Linked DNA regions of Homo sapiens: region 1 is linked to region 2. The links come from fine-mapping of genetic effects on gene expression. A gene starts in region 2. The other region holds a variant in brackets. All regions are shown on one strand. Distances are between the middles of the regions.

Region 1 (5,382 bases), 210 kb after region 2:
GGAAACAAGTCTCCAGGGTTCTTGATTACTAGTTTGTTTCTAACTTGTTCCCTTAGTACTTCATTAAAAATAGGAACATTTAAATCTAACAATAATAATGTAGCTTTCTCACTGGAAAAAAGTAGGAATCATAATTAGTCATACCAAAGAGTGGTAGCCACCCTGCCTCAGTAAATGCAGAACTAAGTAAATTCCTGAGTGTTCTTTCTCTAAAGACCCTGGAAGGTTGTATATCATTCAATAAACTTATTTCAGATAGTTGCTATAAAGAGTTTTCAGGCTTCTAACCTAAAGCTCTTTTCCTAGAAGGGGAGATAGCACATGCATAAATAATTACAACACAAGTCTGGTGTGAAAGTGATGGGGCCAAGTTACCCATTAGGCGGGGATGGAAGGCCTAGTACCATGATGCATTTAGGAGCCCATAAAATGTTTCCTTTTAATTTTTTTAAATAAGAAAAAATTAAGTATCATAATAATAATGAATGTATAATAAAAAAAAATCAGCCTAGATTTCATTTATGTTCATACCAATCAGTTATAAAATATCATTTTAATATTTTATTATGAAGAGGCTGATAAGGCAAAAAGTTCCAATGGCCTGTGAAAGTCATTCAGCAGACCCCGGGCCACTGCAGACTCGAAATTGGTCAAGCCCCATAGGGGCTCAGAGGAAGGAGATAGTTTATGGTTGGGGAGAACCAGGAAAGTCTCAATAAAGGAGGTGACATCTGAAGCAGATTACGAAGAAAGGGTGGAATCTTACTTGGGGTAATGGGACAAAGACATTCCTGGTGGAAGAAAAATATATTATAGACTAAAGTTTCTTAGAAAATAGTGTATGTGCCTTTTCATTTACTTTAAGAAGAAACTAAAGGACATTTTAAATTGGTGTGTGCATGTGTGTTGGCCGGTTTGCTTATAATGATGTTTAAATTTTTTACATCTCTCTCAATGCTGTTCTTAAATAATATATCACTAGCCTTAATGAGAAATTATTAATGCAGTGTCTTTGAGAAAATTTCAAACATATTAAATAGGAACCTTCTTTGAAATGGCTGACTATAAGTACAAAACAAGACATATCAGTATGATATGCAAAAAGTATTATGCCTCCTTCTTTTGACTTCTTCTTCTCTGTTTACCTGACTTACAAAGAAGTCAGATGTTGAGATGACCTTAAACTTTTTCTTTAAATTTAAATTAAATTTAAGGATTTTTTTTTAAATTCTGGCAGGAAATGAATAATAGGACTTCCCACCTTAGATAGAAGTTGATGCTTCTTTCAGAGCTTTTTAAAACACTTCATACTATTTTACAAAAATCTTGGACTTGGTATTTAGCCAAAAGTGTATTTCTTTTTATCTTGTGAATGAGGTACATCTCAATGGAAATTTGATGTGGATGTTTTAGGCCCATTAGCATTTTTTTTTCAGTCATATCTATTACCAATATTGGATGCTGGGTAATCTTGACAAATACATATAATACATTTTACCTTTTTCCTTTTGATTGCTGAGATAGCTCCATGTCTCAACAGAAAAGTCTGGTAACCTGGACTTCAAGGGGCTTTGCCTTTCCTTTATCCATTCCCCACACCTCACATTGTATATTGAGCTAGACACCTAGATGGTGGTTGCACTGCCGTAGGTCATGAGAGGAAGAGAAAGGAGATAAACTGCAGTGGCCAGCAGCTCTTCCACAGGCAAACAGGTTAAATTAGTGTTTCAGTTTCTGGCCTGTTCTTGGGGAGGAGCAGGAGGTTGGAGTTTGAGATTTTCTTCACTGAGCACTAGTGGGTTGTTAAAGGAAATTGAAGTAGGGACTTGCTAGACCACAACACTATTCTGGAATAAATAATCTGGAGGGTTAGCAAGAATGGATTAGAAGAGTGAGTGAATAGGACACTCTTTTGTAGAAAATAATGATAATAATATCTAACATTTATTGATTATTTAGCATAAGTGAACCCCAAAATAAATGCTTTATGTGGACTCAGTTCCTAAAATATTCTCCAAAATCTTACCTTCTTTGCAGGTGGTAAAATGATGTCCTGAAAGGTTATGTCATGCACTCAGGTTGCATGACTGGCTTTCCTGACTTCCAGGAGTTGTGTGTGGGACAGGAGGCCATGTGTATTAGATTCCCGTGGCTCTATTTAGCCGGAACATCATGATATGAATTGAGTGTATTCAATGGTCCAGACCTTGTTCTCAGTACAATAGAGATACAAGATGAGTCAGACATAGTCCTTGTACTCAGTAAGTTCACAGCCAAATAGGCAAGATGAGTACAGAAGTAGCCACTTTTTATGT[G/A]GAATACATTTAGTACCAGAATGGAGGGCTAAGTCATAAGAAATTTCAGATGAAAAAGAAATTACTTTAAAGAAGGAAAGGTTAGTGAAGGCTTAAATGAGAAGAAGGCTTTTAGTTAAGTAAGATTTAATTATGGAAGGAAAGAGAATAGGATATTCCAAACTGAGGGATATCATGGGGAGAATAGGAAAGGTAAGAAATGTGAAGCACACTAGTATTTCAGTTTCATAGGACACCATGGTACAAAAACAGAAAACACTGGAGAGGTAGGAGAGGTAGATTAGTGCTAAGTTTCAGAAAGCATTACAGTTAAGTTTTTATCTTACTTGGTAAGAAATGTGGAATCATATTGTAGATTTTTAAGGAGGGGAATACACTTATTCAATAGAAAATCTGTTCATTACATACTTATTACACGCATTTTGTGTTTAGGCACTGCCTGTAATATGAGTGGATACAATGCTATGGCATGACATCTGATTTTAATTAGCTCAATTTTAGTAGAGGAGGCAAGACAAGCATATATATAGTTAATATGTCTGACTATTCTCCTAATGATAGAGTTGTTTATGAAGTATAATTTAAGCCTCAAGAAGTTAGAATTTTTGAAGAAGCAAGGACCCCTTTCCACAACTGCATTTGGGAAAGTAATGTGGCAAAAGTTGTTAGGAGGGTTTGGGAAAGTCAGGTGATAGAGGCAGAGAACTTGGTTTATAACAAACAGTAATCAAGACAAGGGGTAATCAAGACCTGAGCTACAAGGGTAACTTTTGGAAAGGATGTGAGAGGCACTGAAGAGGTTCACCTCATATGATCTGACAACTATTTACACTGGAGTGAGGGAGGAAAAAAAATGTGATGGAGTTAATGAGATTAGCCACAAGGTTTCCCCTCTTGCTGTCTAGTTAAAAGAGTTTTGCTAATGAAAATGAAACGGCTGAAGGCGTGTATTGGTTGCAAATTGGGTTTGATTTGAACTTGCCAAGTTTATAGTGATATAGAATATCTAGTTGGGGTGTTGACATGTAGTATTGGAGTTAAGAAAGTCAGTCAAGACTACAGATGCAGATTTTGGAGATAGTTCTACGAAGACTTGTTTAAACTTTTGGAGAAGGTCCCTGTCTGACAGCTTTGAAGAGAGCAGTGGTTCTCCCAGCACGCAGCTGGAGATCTGAGAACGGGCAGACTGCCTTCTCAAGTGGGTCCCTGACCCCTGAGCAGCCTAACTGGGAGGCACCCCCCAGTAGGGGCAGACTGACACTTCACGGGGCCGGGTACTCCTCTGAGACAAAACTTCCAGAGGAACGATCAGACAGCAGCATTCGCGGTTCACGAAAAACCGCTGTTCTACAAACACCGCTGCTGATACCCAGGCAAACAGGGTCTGGAGTGGACCTCTAGCAAACTCCAACAGACCTGCAGCTGAGGGTCCTGTCTGTTAGAAGGAAAACTAACAAACAGAAAGGACATCCACACCAAAAACCCATCTGGGCATGATCATGGAGAAAGAAGAAGAGTCAAGGAAAGATCTTGGGTAACACCCACATTTATTCACCTGGAAGAGAAGTCAGAAAGAACTGAAGTAAAAGCCAGGGAGATAAGAGTAGAACCTAGACAGTATGTCATAGAGAGAGGAACTCTGATATGGAAGTGCTCAAAGGAGAGAGATCAAAGAGGTTGAGGACTAAGCACAGGTCACTGCATTTAGTTTCTCTATGCTCCTTGGCTACCTTTAAAACAATAGTCCCAGTAAGTTTTGAGCTAGAGCTGTGTTTTGAGGATTGGCTAACTGCCAATCACTAGAGGAATAAGATAAGACTACTTTCAAGATTTTGATAAGGGATGGCCAGGAGAGAAAAAATGGTAGCTTGGTTTAGCTAAGGATAATAATAAAAATAACAACTGGGTGCTCAGAACATGGCAGACACTCTTATAAGTGTGTTATATGCATTTACTCATGCAAGGCTCATAATTCTATGGTGTAGATTATTTGTGTTACTTTCATATTACTAATCATTCAACTGAGGATTAGAGAGGTAAAGTAACTTGCCCAAGGTAAATTAGCTAGTGACTAATTGACAGAGCTGGGATTCAAATCCATGTAGGATTGATTCCAAAGCTCACTCTCCTAATCACTACACAAACTGCCAGTGCATCTGTGAATTTGGGGAAAAGGGTGAAAATGATGGAAAAAGACAAGACAGAGAGAATAGTTCCAGAGGTGGCCAGCCTTCTCAGTGCCATCCTCATTAACAACAGATCCCAAATTTCCATGCTCTTTTGATGCTCTTCATGTCTGTTATTCTGTATTCCAATCTTATGCCACCCCAACTTTGTTGTTTTTCAATTTCTTCTTCCAATTTTATTGATAAAGCCGGTAAATTATGCAGATGTAGTTCACTGCCTGTTTAGTAATTAACTTAGCTGTTTCCCCATTACCTAGACATTTTTCTTGTTTTCTCCGTGGGTTACCTCATTTATTCCCTGCAACGGCCATGGAACAACTTTATTTTCCAAATAGCAAGAGGTTTACATCTTGACCGTCTCTAGTAAATCCTGTACACTGTTTCCAGATCAATGTTCTTAAAGACAGTCTTAGTGATATCTTGAGGAAACCTGAAGCTTCCTCATTGCCTATGAGACTTCTATTCAAATTCCTCAGCATGTTATTCAAAGCATCCTTAAGTTTATCTCGACCTTTTAATTTCTTCTACTTACTGCTTTCCTACATTCTAAGCCAACCAGGATACTCATCATGTCTGGAAGACTGGCTGGCTTTTCTTCTTCGGGACATTGCTCAAGCCATTCCCTCTGTCCTCTTGCCCATCCTCTCTTTCATTTTCATTTATTGTAATGCTAACTATCCTTCCACTCTAAAGTCAAATGTAACCTCTTTCAGAAACGTGATTACCCCAATTAGAAAACCACTACTCACTTGAACTCAAAATACAATAGGCAAAACATAGATCTTATCCTTATAGAACTCCCATACCATCGCCTTTGCACCTACTTGGGATAATGAGCCAGCTTCGAAGTGTCACAGAGAAAGTGAAACAGGGGAACTTAT
Region 2 (5,382 bases):
GGAAAGGGTGCCTCAGTATATCTTTCATTTCAATTTCTCTTCTGAAGAGTGAAATTGAGCAAATGTAAGAACCATTTGTTTTCTGTTGGATAATTGGTATTTTATCCAATTGTAGGAGTTTTTATATAACAGGAAGATAAGCTCTTTCTCTGTGATGAGTTGAAAATAATTTTTCCAGTGTTATTTATCCTTTGACTTTATTTGTGGTGTTTTGTTATTTTAAATCAATGAAAGGGTTTTGTTTCTATATAGTTACATTAATGAATCTTGCTTTTTTTTTTTTTTTAGGGATTCTAGATTTTGTAAATAGTTGAAAGTTCTACCACATTCAGGCTATGAAAGAATTCTTTCATATTGTCTTAAAATTTCACGTATTTCAAACTTTCATTTGCTTGAAAATAAGCCAGATATGAAGCATGGATCCATTTTTTCCTTCCTACTGGTTACCAAATTGACTCCATGATATTTAGTAATTAGTCTACTTAATAGAAAGCGCATTTATTTCCTTTTTTGTTCTATAGACTACAATTTTGGTTCTGTCCACATGATGGCACCACAACCCCAAAAAAATCATGTTCTCAGTCGGAAAGAAGACAACATAAGATTTACACAGCGTTAATATTTTATTAAATGCCTCCATGTTGTGGCAGACAGACCTGAATTTCACATGGAATGTTCAACAGTTTATCAAATACTGAAGTCCATTTGGTAAAGATACATACCATAGTGTATGCTAATCAAAGAAGAAATTGACATTTAAAAAAAAATCATGACAATCTATTCTTCAGTTTTTTATCTTAGGCCACAAATGAATACACATACACATACACACATATGTATACATATACAGTTTATTATCAACCATAAAGACATGGTGTGTAAACTAGCTTTGATAAATTCTAGTAATATTTTCTAAACCTGCAAGCCTTCTACATCTTAGAGAGTAGGTTTGCACAAATCTGGGAAGCAAAGGTCACCCCTGGGCTTATGAATAAAGAGGATAATTACGTAATTCTGAATTTCCACCCCTAAGCCCCACCCCTTATTCCATCCCTGACAATCTTGGGGTTAAAGTCTATTGTCACTTATGAGAAACATGCCTGGACTTGCCCTGCACTCTTTAAAGAATCAAAAACGGAAGTGACAGCAAAGACTTTCCCTTTCTCCTCGCTAATGGCAAAGCCTTTCCCTTTCTCCTCTCTAATGGCAATAAGCCTCTTTTCCACATTATGCTGGAAGTATTTGAGACACAGTATTTTTGTAAATGTTCGATTAATGTTGATACCACACATACCTAAATTTGACAGTGGACTGCAGCAACTTTTTGTATGTACCTTCCAGGGATTCAATAATCTGGTATTCTAAATTTCTCTGGAATTTAGCTTCAAAAAACTATTTACCATATCCTGTTAACATAGGTAAAAAGATTCAAGTGTGCTGCTAATTAACCTAACCTCGATGATCTAGTAAAAATATACAATAATTACCTAAGTTCTCCAAGCCTCATCTATAAAATGGGAATAATAATGTAGGAGATGAGAATATGCCACCCCAAATATGGCCCTGGGATAAAGATTATTTTAAGATAATTATTTTGAGAACCAGCAGACCCAGGAAATGCTCTAAAAATGGCATATTACCCTTTCGTAAGGGAAACGTACATTCACTAAAAAAAAAAACAACAAAAACAAAAAACAAAAAAACCCCACAAAACTCCATTTGTAAAAGTGTCTCCTCTGTACCAGGAAGAATGACTCTAAATCATGAAAAACTTATCAATGAAGAAATAAGAAACCCCACTCCTGTTTACCGTACATTTCCTGGTCATGATTCCTTAACTTGCCTGCCCCACTCTTTTCTTTTGGTTTAGCTAAAGATAGTATTTAAGCCCGATTTTAAACCATCTCTAATTTTCCTGGTTATCTCCCATGTATATATGAGACGTATATGTTAATAAGCTTCTTTGTTTTCTTGTTAATCTGTCTGGTTACAGCGACCCAGGCCAAAACTTTGAAAGGTGGAAAATTATTTTTCCTTCCTTACAATATTTCTCTCAGAATTGTTGTAGGATGAAATAAGGCATTTAAAAATACTGCACAGTCCTCAATAAATGTTACTCTATCGTAATTAGAACAAGAAAAACAAACAAAAAAACGTGTTCCTAGATTAGTCAAACTGCACAGCAAAATCTGGAAATGGGAAACTAAGCTGTGTTTGCACTCACTGGCCTACGCTCCTCTCTTCATCCTACCAATCTCCCTACCCCAGAAAGTCTCAGATTGACTCTCCAGGAACCAGGGCAGCTCATGAGCCATCTCAACAGATGCATTCGGAAGAAGTCATAGATGACTCTGATTGGAAACTCACAATCGGCATCGATGTTTAGTACTAGTAACTGTCAAAGGCCCACGGTTGTCAACCGCTGCCCACTTCGACACCTAACGGCATTCCGGAACATTCCACAAGATGGCGCCCTTGCTTTCCAATCTTCGGGCTACGGGCGGAGGACGCCTTGCCAGGACGCCGACCTCGCTCTGCAAGGTTCAGGGGCCGACCTCAGACAGAGGCTCGCTCTAGGGGCATGGGCGGGGGCCAGACGGGCCTCGAGTGGGATCCTGGCACGGTTGGCCGATCGGCCCGGGATCCCGGCTGCGGGCCCGTGTCTGCCCTAGCGCGATGGGCTCGAATGCCCGGCTCCACGAATCCCGGCCTTTCACCCCCACGGCCTCTCGGCACTGCCCCAGCTAGACACCAGCGAGCTCGTCACAGCGCGGGCAGGCACTGCGGGGCAGCTGCAGACGAGCCCTGTCATACGGCCGGAGGAGGCCTCGCCTGCCCGTGCGGCGGGCTCCGGGCACCCTGATACCTTGACACAGGAGGCCCCGGGCGGCCGGGAAGGGCTGTGCGGGGGAGGGACTGCGTCTACACCCGCGCCCGACTCGCTCGGGTCACGGCACTGCCCTGCCACCAGGCGGCTGGGGCGGGGGTGAGGCCAGGCGTCGGCCCTCGCGATTCTGTTTTGTACGCTGAGGCTCGGAGCCTTCGAAGAACGGGACAGCGGGGCCCACGGACGGCTCTGAAGGCCTTCCCGCGGCCGCAAGAGATCTCGGCGGCCGGCGTTTGAGGCGCGCGGCTCCGCTGGGAAGCGAGACCCGGGTGGCGGGACAAGACTTGCTTCCCGGCCACGCGCGCTCGGCCGGCCGTGGGGCGGGGCATAGGCCGTGACGTGATGTCGCGTATCGAGTCTCCGCCCCCTTCCCGCCTCCCCGTATATAAGACTTCGCCGAGCGCTCTCACTCGCACAAGTGGACCGGGGTGTTGGGTGCTAGTCGGCACCAGAGGCAAGGGTGCGAGGACCACGGCCGGCTCGGACGTGTGACCGCGCCTAGGGGGTGGCAGCGGGCAGTGCGGGGCGGCAAGGCGACCATGGAGCTTTTGCGGACTATCACCTACCAGCCAGCCGCCAGCACCAAAATGTGCGAGCAGGCGCTGGGCAAGGGTTGCGGAGCGGACTCGAAGAAGAAGCGGCCGCCGCAGCCCCCCGAGGAATCGCAGCCACCTCAGTCCCAGGCGCAAGTGCCCCCGGCGGCCCCTCACCACCATCACCACCATTCGCACTCGGGGCCGGAGATCTCGCGGATTATCGTCGACCCCACGACTGGGAAGCGCTACTGCCGGGGCAAAGTGCTGGGAAAGGTGACAAGCGGAGGGCGCCGGGCTGCCGGGCGGGCGGGAGGTCTGTCCGGGCGACCCCAAGCCGGGCAAGCCCGCGGGGTCCCTCGCCCGCCGCTTCCGGGTTTTTCGGGGGTCCGATCCCAGCGCGAGGTGGGCTCCTCACCTGCCCTCTGGCTTTTGTGCGCCGGCAGCGCTGGGGATCGGCTTTGCATTCTTAGCCTCAGAACTGTGTGTCTCCCGCAGCCCAGAGAAATGCATCTTGAGTCTGGAAGCGAGGGCTTTCTACATCAGACCTCTCTCCCTCTATCTGCTCCCAGGGAATTTTCCTGACAAGTCTCATCAGAGATTATTTTTCATGTCTCCCCGTTCCAACTCCCTCCATAAAGCTCCCCTTTATAAAAGAAGAAGAGAAACTGTTTGAACTTGCTGTTTCCAGCAATGCATTTCTCTTCATGAGGGAGCTTTAACGAAGTCGAATGCCTCCCTCTGTCCACCCTCCTCCATTCCTCAATTTTTTTTTTTTTGCTTTTCTTTCTTCCCATTTATTTATTTATTTAAAATATCTGCCGTCCATTTTTGTGCCATCCTCAATTCCGTCTCGGCTTTGTTTCCTTTCAGGGTGGCTTTGCAAAATGTTACGAGATGACAGATTTGACAAATAACAAAGTCTACGCCGCAAAAATTATTCCTCACAGCAGAGTAGCTAAACCTCATCAAAGGGAAAAGGTGCGTATGACTCTTGAGTAAAGTATTTTCTTTGTGTGCAAGGATGGCCCTTCCCTGTTAGGAAAATGTCTTCTGCATGTGTAATCACTGGCTTTTCCGAGGTGACTGGAAGCTAATAAGCCTTACCTTGCTTTTTCATTTAGATTGACAAAGAAATAGAGCTTCACAGAATTCTTCATCATAAGCATGTAGTGCAGTTTTACCACTACTTCGAGGACAAAGAAAACATTTACATTCTCTTGGAATACTGCAGTAGAAGGGTAAGTGTCAACTCCTATTTGAGAACATTTGCTTACCCCGAATTAACATGGTATTCAAAGAGTATTTTATCTGGGATTTTAGCTGTGGCAGCACTTACACTGCAAAGTTAACTTTCATTGCTCATCCTGCAAAGGGAAACCAGTGATTTTGATAACTGTTTTGACAGATTCTCTTTTTTCCTTCTCCTCTTCTTAGTCAATGGCTCATATTTTGAAAGCAAGAAAGGTGTTGACAGAGCCAGAAGTTCGATACTACCTCAGGCAGATTGTGTCTGGACTGAAATACCTTCATGAACAAGAAATCTTGCACAGAGATCTCAAACTAGGTAAGTCATTGACGCCAAAAGCTGAGTTTTGTGTTAGAGTTCTTTTTTCTCTCTCTGTTTTTTTTTACATATTAATGTTCTTAATTGGGATCTCGTGTCTGCAATCTTGCTTTTGAATGGGCGACTTTCATATAACAATTGGCTGCCTGGCTCCAAAGTGGATGTGTGTGTACTTGGTTAGAACGCATTTTCAAAGGGATTCACATTTTGTTTTGTTTATCGTCTAGGGAACTTTTTTATTAATGAAGCCATGGAACTAAAAGTTGGGGACTTCGGTCTGGCAGCCAGGCTAGAACCCTTGGAACACAGAAGGAGGTAAGAGTCAGAAAGATGCATCCTAGTAGACTTTTGTGGAGACCAAATATGCCTTCATTATTTTGCATTTAATGTTTCAG

What was found.
Region 1: its variant is fine-mapped to the expression of PLK2 in whole blood (TOPMed, PIP 0.97).

Annotation. Positions count from the first base shown.
Region 1 is chr5:58,252,987-58,258,368 of GRCh38, reverse strand. No RefSeq gene overlaps it. Among named protein-coding and RNA genes, the nearest start is that of LINC02101, 130 kb to the right of the region's middle. The variant G/A (reference allele first, on the strand shown) is at 2,316.
Region 2 is chr5:58,458,004-58,463,385 of GRCh38, reverse strand. PLK2 (polo like kinase 2) reads left to right here and starts at 3,300. Exons shown (of 14, transcript NM_006622.4): 1 at 3,300-3,696; 2 at 4,294-4,401; 3 at 4,545-4,661; 4 at 4,858-4,987; 5 at 5,215-5,302. The coding sequence starts at 3,427. RefSeq lists silencers at 2,803-2,982, 5,010-5,304.